3 separate regions of the Homo sapiens genome follow, and regions 2 and 3 are each linked to region 1. Evidence: fine-mapped expression QTL. A gene starts in region 1. Each other region holds a variant in brackets. All regions are shown on one strand. Distances are between the middles of the regions. Region 1 holds the start of C1orf220 (chromosome 1 putative open reading frame 220). Region 2 overlaps LOC105371632 (a long non-coding RNA gene). Region 3 has its middle 60 kb from the start of C1orf220.

What was found.
Region 2: its variant is fine-mapped to the expression of C1orf220 in whole blood (INTERVAL, PIP 0.98).
Region 3: its variant is fine-mapped to the expression of C1orf220 in whole blood (TOPMed, PIP above 0.99). The same link has a PIP of 0.9 or more in blood mononuclear cells.

The regions. Positions count from the first base shown.
Region 1 is chr1:178,541,704-178,544,464 of GRCh38, forward strand. C1orf220 (chromosome 1 putative open reading frame 220) reads left to right here and starts at 1,093. Exons shown (of 3, transcript NR_033186.1): 1 at 1,093-1,182. It overlaps LOC124904460 (a long non-coding RNA gene), which reads right to left and starts at 942. Exons shown (of 2, transcript XR_007066748.1): 1 at 331-942; 2 at 1-123. RefSeq lists an enhancer at 788-847 and silencers at 898-1,227, 1,258-1,327.
Region 2 is chr1:178,569,594-178,572,354 of GRCh38, forward strand. All of the region lies in intron 1 of LOC105371632 (a long non-coding RNA gene), which reads right to left. Among named protein-coding and RNA genes, the nearest start is that of C1orf220, 28 kb to the left of the region's middle. The variant C/T (reference allele first, on the strand shown) is at 1,400.
Region 3 is chr1:178,601,398-178,604,158 of GRCh38, forward strand. No RefSeq gene overlaps it. Among named protein-coding and RNA genes, the nearest start is that of C1orf220, 60 kb to the left of the region's middle. The variant A/C (reference allele first, on the strand shown) is at 1,172.

The DNA.
Region 1 (2,761 bases):
TCTGCCCAGAGTAATGCCAGAGTGGAGGCCACAGCTGAAGGCAGAGGCTGTTGGCCTGGGGTGGAGAGGGGAGATTCCTCTGGGTGGAAGGTGACATTGGGCAGCCTTGGATGAAGTGAATACCTGGTGTGGGGAAGCAAAAATAAATAGAGAAACAAACGGATTAATTTTGCTTCTTTCCAGGGACTTGATTTTCTACAAGTGCTGCTCCAAGAGGCTTCTACACCCCCGCAGGGAGGCAAGCACCGTTTTGAGGTGGCCGGGCTGGCGAGGAGGTGCAGACCCCAGCCAGCTGGAGGGGCTCTGCCCTGATGGCGTTCCCACTCCCACCTCATTCGCAGGGCGCCGGGGAGGGCTGCAGGTGTTCTATTCCCACCCGGCTTGCAGCGCAAGGAGGGGAATCGCCTGACACCTTCCCCTTCTCCTCTGCCCCGCTTCCTTTCTCTGCTCCCACAGGTGGAAGTCACCAGCGGAAACAACCCTTCACTGTATGGAGGGCTGGGAGAGAGGGGCCAAGAGGGCCCCGGGAGAGCCACTGGGCGGCAGGCAAGGGGCGGGGCAGTCTCCCTTCCGGCTTCCGGGACCGAAGGGTGAAGGGCAAGGGGAGCTCAGGGAATGAACGAGTGCTCCCGACTAATGTTTAACCCACGACTCCGAGACTCCGACTGGTCACAGTCCTGCAGACCTCCAGGTCCTGCACAGGCGACGCAGCGCTCCACTGGCCCGGAATGCGCACCCCGGGGGAAATGGAAAGTGCCATTGAAATGTCAGATGTCACCGTCTTCATCAGCACTCTTGGAATTTTGGCCAAAGTGGCTTCTTCTTTTGCTGAGACTTGACTCACTCCCGGCAGAGGGATGATAGCGGCCTTGCCCCGAGCGTTTATCCGGCTGCAGGCGTCATTCTTGGTCGCCTGTGTGTCCAGAGCCCCAGCGCAGGAAGGGAGCGCAATTCCCACCGCGCCCGCTGGGTGGCGCTAGCGCCGCACCGTGTCCCGGGATGAGGGGAAACCGCGCTGCCCAGTCAGTACCCCGACGCCCCCGCGCCCCCGCCGGGCCCCGCGCGCTGCAGCCACCGCCTCTTCTCGGCTTCCTCTTGCTTTACAGTAACTCTCCTCCTGGGGAAAAGGCTTTTCACGGAGCAGGCTCGGAGCCTACGGGGCTGGCCTCGGACTGGATGGGGGTAAGGACGGGTGGCGGCGCTCGCGCCGAGCGAACGGAGGGCTCAGGCGGCCGGTGATCAGGGACGGGCTGCGGCCGCCGTCTGGGGTGAGAGGCCCACCCAGAGCTCTGGGCCAGGGCTCGCGGCTCTCGTGCAGATGCTGGGCCGGGAGGTGTGGGGAGGGGGCTTCCCAGGCGGGGCAACCGGAGGGGAATGGGGTGTGCAGGAGGGAGGGGAGGCGTGGAGCGCCCGGCCTGCAGGCACTGGGCGGCGCTCTCCAGCCTCCTCTTCTCCCGCCGGGTGCCTGGTGGCTTGGCCTCCCCTCCAGAGCTTCGCATATCCTGGCGGGAGCCGGCGCTCTCTCTCCATACTTAGGACTTGACCCTTATTCCACACCCGGGCAGGGAATCATTTGCCCAATCCGAATTTGATTTTCTGCTTGTGAGAGGAGAAACTGGTGACAGTGTCGCATGGACACTGTCGGGGAAGCCGAGACGTAGACCTGGAAGCCTGTACCAGAGGCCTTGTGGACAGCTTTGGAGCATGCATCTTAAGGCACACCACCGGTTTCTGCTGCTTTGGCACAGCCACGCAGCACCTAGGATGCTTCTCTGCACGCAGCAGAGGCCTAATCCGTGCACCCTCTGACGGTGTTGGAGGGAGCTGGGGAGCAACATCAGATTAATAGCCCCTGGGCTATTTGTATGACGTGCAGATTTCACCCTCTCATTCTTAAAGGGTGAAAGGCTGCAATTCAGAAAGGCGAAGATGGGGCCCAGGAATCTGCAATCTGCGTGGGGTTTTTTTTTTTTTTATGAAGTCTTGTTCTGTCGCTCAGGTTGGGGTGCAGTGGCGCGATCTGTGCTCACCGCAACCTGTCTTCCAGGTTCAAGCGATTATCCTGCCTCAGCCTTCTGAGTAGCTGGGACTACAGGTGCATGACACCACACCTGGCTAATTTTTGTATTTTTAGTAGAGATGGGGTTTCACCATGTTCGCCAGGCTGGTCTTGAACTCCTGACCTCAAGTGATACGCCCACCTTGGCCTCCCAACGTGCTGGGATTACAGGCATGAGCCACCGCGCCTGGCCAGAGTTTGCATTTTGTTGTTGTCGTTTGTTTGTTTGAGACGGAGTCTCGCTCTGTGGCCCAGGCTGGAGTGCAGTGGCGCCATCTCGACTCACTGCAACCTCTGCTTCCCAGGTTCAAGCGATTCTCCTGCCTCAATCTCCCAAGTAGCGGGGATTAACAGGCGTGCCACCACCATGCCTGGCTAAATTTTTTATTCTTAGTAGAGACAGGGTTTCTCACGTTGGGCAGGCTGGTCTCAAGCTCCTGATCTGCCCGCCTTGGCCTCCCAGAGTGCTGGGATTACAGGTGTGAGCCACCGCGCCTGGCCTGTTTTGTTTTCCTAAATCCAGAAGTTCTGATTCAAGCCTAAACCTGCCACTTCCATTCCCAATCCTCTGAGCTTCATGAGCTCCAGACACAGGGCTGTTAATCACAATTTCTTTAATTCTTTATATCTCTTGTGGAATTAGAGGAGTAGATGTTCTTTCTTTTTGGGAAAAACATTAGAAAATGCCTACATGTCTTTATT
Region 2 (2,761 bases), 28 kb after region 1:
TCTGTCTTTGAATCTACATTTTGTCCCTTACAAAGAACATATAGTTCTATGATTTTTAAAATCCATTCTGCCAATATCTGTCTTTTAATTGGAGTGTTTCAGTGTTAATCTTGAGGATCCTATGTATATGATGAGTTACTTTTTTTTGCTGTTTTTAAGATTCTTTGTCTATGGCTTTTGACAGTTTGATTTTGAAGTGTCTAGGTGTGGATATTTTGAATTTATTCCACTTGGAGTTTGTTGAGCTTCGTGGATGTGTAAATTCATGTTTTTAATCAAATCTGTTAAGTATTGAGCCCTTATGTCTTCAAGTACTTTTTTTCCCCCTTTCTTTTTCTTGCTTCTTTCTGGTACTTCAGTTATGCCTATTAACACTTGATGGTGTCCCACACAAGTCTTTGAGGCTCTGTTCATTTTCCTTCATTCTTTTTCTTTCTGAGATTGGATAACCACAATTGGCCTATCTTCAAGTTTCCCAATTCTCTCTTCTTCCTGCTCACACCTTTCCTGGTGTTCCTCTTGTGAATTTTTCATGTTAATGCCAGAATTTCTATTTGATTTTTAAAAATAAATTATATCTCTCTCCTTTTTTTTTTTTTTTTGAGATGGAGTCTCGCTCTGTCACCCAGGCTGGAGTGCAGTGGTGTGATCTTGGCTCACTGCAACCTCCAACTCCCGGGTTCAAGCATTCTCCTGCCTCAATCTCCCGAGTAGCTGGGATTACAGGTGCGTGCTACCATACCTGGAAATTTTTGTATTTTTTTAGTAGAGACGGGGTCTCACCATGTTGGTAAGGCTGGTCTCGAACTCTTGACCTTGTGATCCGCCTGCCTTGGCCTCCCAAAGTGCTGGGATTACAGGCATGAGCCACTGTGCCCGGCCAAATTATATCTCTTTATTAATATTTTCTATCTGGTGCGACATTTCTCTTTATTTTTATTTTTTTTCTTTTGTAATAGAGATGTAGTCTTGCCATGTTGCCCAGGCTGGTCTCAAACTCCTGAGCTGGCAATCCTCCCACCTCCAGCTCCCAAAGTGCTGGTATTACAGATGTGAGCCACCATACCCAGCTGAGACATAATTCTCACACTCTGCTTTAGTTCTTTTTTTTTTTTTGAGATGGGGTCTCACTCTGTTGCCCAGGTTGGAGTGCAGTCTCAACTCACTGCAACCTCCACCTCCTGGGTTCAAGCGATTCTCCTGCCTCAGCCTCTCAAGTAGCTGGGACTACAGGCATGTACCACTGCACCTGGCTATATATATAATATATAAATTATATTAATATAATTATTTATATATTATATTTATATAGTATGTTAATAATATAATTAGCCAATATATAATATATGTATATATGTGTATATATTATATCATATTGTATATATTTTTTATATATATA[C/T]ACACATATATATATATATATTTTTTTTTTTTTTGAGGCGGAGTCTTACTTTGTTGCCCAGGCTGGAGTGCAATGGTGTGATCTCGGCTCACTGAAAACTTCACCTCCGGGTTCAAGCAATTCTTCTGCCTCAGCCTCCCGAGTAGCTGGGACTACAGGCACCTGCCACCATGCCCAGCTAATTTTTGTGTTTTTAGTAGAGATGGGGTTTCACCATATTGGCCAGGCTGGTCTCGAACTCCTGACCTTGTGATCCACCCACCTCAGCCTCCCAAAGTACTGGGATTACAGGTGCGAGCCACCGTGATTGGCCAATTTTTGTATTTTTAGTAGAGACGGGGTTTCACCATGTTGGCCAGGCTGGTCTTGAACTCCTGACCTCAAGTAATCCACCCGCCTCAGCCTCTGAAAGTGCTGGGATTACAGGCGTGAGCCATTGCACCTGGCCAAGTTCTTTAGAGATGGTTTCCTTCAGTTTTTTTAGACATGGTTTTCAAATATATATTTGAATATATTTAAAATAACTGGGCCAGGCACAGTGGCTCATGCCTGTAATCCCCAGCACTTTGGGAGGCCAAGGCAGGAGGATCACCTGAGGTCAGGAGTGAGACCAGCCTGGCCAACATGGTGAAACCCTGTCTCTACTAAACATACAAAAATTAGCTGGGCACGGTGGCGGGCGCTTATAATCCCATCTGCTCAGAAGCTGAGGCACAAGAATTGCTTGAACCCAAAACACAGAGGCTGCAGTGAGCCTCTGCCTCCCAAAGTGCTAGGATTACAGGCATGAGCCATCACGCCTGGCCCAAACTAGACATTTTAAATAATATAATGTGGCAACTCTGGAAATCAGATTCTCCACCCTCCCCAGGTTTGTTTTGATGGTGCTGTTGTTTTAGTTCGTTTGTTTATTGACTCTTCTGAACTCTGTTTTCTTTGTCAGGTGAGGCCACTGAAGTCCCTGCTCAGTTAGTTTAATGGTCAGCTGATGATGAACAGAGATTTTTCTTAAACAACTGGAGCCAGTAAGTCTCCCAGTCTTTGCCAAGGGCTTCGTGTGAGTGTCGGGGCGTGCCTTCAACACTAAGCCAGGCAGTCAGCAACTCTGCCTTGGTGTTGTCTTTCTGTTTTTCAGAAAGGTTGAAAAATGTGGCCTTTATTTAGGAGACCATGTGTACAACTAAAAATGAAGGGTTTTTTTTTTAACCAAGGAATGAGGGAAACTAGCTATCTCTGCCGCCTTCATTTTACAGGTGAAGAAACTGAGGTTTAGAGAAGTTCGGTAATTTACCCAAGGACATCCAAGCAATAGGTAGTGGTGCTAGGATTAAAATCAGGCAGCCTGAACGGCTGTAGTGGCTC
Region 3 (2,761 bases), 60 kb after region 1:
TTTATTTTGTCTAGACGGGGTCTGATGATGTTGCTGAGGCTGGTGTCAAACTCCTGCCTCAGCCTCCCAAAGTGTGAGTCATTGCACTGGGTTGTCAGGAACTATTTTAGACGCTGCCTACTTCAAATTATCTCCCACACTCAGCACTCAGATTCTGTGAATACTCCTCCCATCGAAGGAGGCTACACATTCAGTTTACAACCCCAGCCTCCAAGATTCTCAGCCAAACACCTTCATGGCTCTGACATATTCTACATATGGAGTTAACAACATGAAAAACACAGTCAAATAGGAAAATCATGTTATCCAACAGAGTTAGACTGTGAAAAGAAGACATTGCATTTTCTCTATTTCTGTGGCATCTAACATCAGAGGACAGGGTAGACCAGATAGCTAGCTAGCTATCTGTTTATCTACCTATTTATTTTGAGACGGAGTCTTGCTTTGTCGCCCAGGCTCAAGTGCAGGGGCACGATCTCAGCTCACTGCAACCTCTGCCTTCCGGGTCCAAGCAATTCTCTTGCCTCAGCCTCCTGCGTAGCTGGGATTACAGGCACCCACCACCACACCCGGTTAATTTTTGTATTTTTAGTAGAGACTGGGTTTCACCATGTTGGCCAGGCTGGTCTTGAACTCCTGACCTCAGGTGATCTGCCCGCCTCAGCCTCCCAAAATGCTGGGATTACAGGCATGAGCCACCATGCCCAGCAACAGCTATCTTTTTAGAATAGCCATAAAAAATATGTCTTTGTTTAGATCACTTCAGAACCAAATGCTCTGAAGCCAGCCTATCCAGAGAGCCTAGATTGATTTGAGGCCAGTCCCTGCAATGCAAGGGGGGGTGTCACAACTCAAAGGCCACTCCTGAGCTTTCACTTTCTTTCCAAAATAATTGAAGTCAGTGGACTGTCCCCAGAGCTTCTGTGAGGTATTCACATTTTCTCTGGAGTGACGTGACTTTTGTAAGACATCTAAGGCATGTATATGTTATACTTTGGCCTGGCTAAATCTGGAGAATGACAGAGGTCTCCAAACCCCGAGGACTGTTGGGTTGATTTGAATTAAATGAGATGCCCCCTTTCTGCAGAAAATGGAAACTAACATGGCTATCTCTGTCCATTACACAAGACTTTTGTAAAACAGTCATGGTTTCTTTCTTAAAATCTGTTTT[A/C]AACAGTTGGAAGTCCATATTTCCTTCACTAATAGTCCTCCTATAAGTTGTGGTCATAAACCATTTTTTCAAGACTCAGAGAGCTCTTCTCACTTGGAAAGCCATCACACATATTCATCAATTTGGAATCTGCAGCAAAACTGAGCCTTTTCAGCCTCTTACCTATAGATAAAAAGGCTGAGATCCATGTTTCTACTTACAATTCCTAATTTTGAGAATCCCTGAGCAATACATTTTGATCTTGTGAGATTTTAACTGATCCCTTTCAATTTTCTTTTCACCATACTTAAGAATCTAAGGCTTACAGATACCTTGATTCCCAACTCTCAAAGCTTTTTATATGTACTTTCTTATTTGTTCTCTCAAACCTTACGAAAAGAGGCATTAGTTCTTTCCCAGAAGGTAAAATGCATAAAGTATGTGGACCTGGCATCAGATGAGCTGGTTTAGAATCTTAGATCCACCACTCACCAGCACTCAGACTTCGGGCAAGTTACTTAACCTCTCAGGGACTCAAAGAGTCCTCATCTGTAAAATGGGGTTACCCACACCTATCTCACAAAATTGTTTTGAGGACTAAATTCCACACATATATCTATATAAAGCATTTAGCATGGTGCATAGAGCTAGTTAAAAATTTTGGTTGCTTTTAAAGTTATGGAGAAACAAATGGAGATCCTGGGAGTGTCTCCCAATGTTCAACCATATAGGAACAAGAAGGGAATGGAATCCTGAATCTAGATCATCAGTCTTCATTGTAGTTACTTCACTCATCCCTTTTGCAAGTTATCACCAAAACATCCTGGTTCACCACTAAGAAACTCTCCGTAAGCTGAGCCTGAAATGTCACAAAAGACGTGCCGTTCCTGTGACCTCAAATAAGAACAGGTTCGCTCTTGATTTGTCCAGGTAAAAAGAGCATTGCAAGTGATAGATACAGAAATGCTTATGTACCTCCTTTTTGAATTTATATTAGGTTTTACATTTTAGCCTCTGCATCTGAATGGATGAAAAGTGAGCATATGTAACAGTGGGAAACAGGTTTTTCTGTGGAGGCTCCCAATAAGTAGCTCCCATAGACTATTCACAAAGCCAGGTATATAGTTGGAAATTCTTCTCCTTTACTTCTTGAGTAGCACGAGATTGGCTCAGGCTATCCAGAAGTAGCTTTGAGGTATAAGCAACCACATGGACATGGACTATACCCTGAAGCCCGGCTATAAGGGGCAGAGCACTGAAGGAGGCCAAAAGAAGTTCAAAAGCAGGGGTAGATCCCTGACCCAAGGGCCCAGGGCCTGCCTCTGGGAGTGCCTTGCCCATTTCATTAGATATGAGGGAGAGTCACAGAGCAGACTGGCCCAGTAGGTCCTCTCGGCCACTGAAGGATTATAAAGGTCTTTACCAGTTATAAAATAAAAGGGATGAATGCTGATTTTTCAACAATGTTAAATACTCAGCTTTGAAAGGAGGGTTGTATGGCACCATCAATCTCATCTGTCCCCGCTTTCTCTTTGAGTTCTTGCCTCTAGCACTCAGCTCCACCCACAGTTTTCCCTCCTCCCTGGGACTCTCTCTGCCCTCCCTCATGAG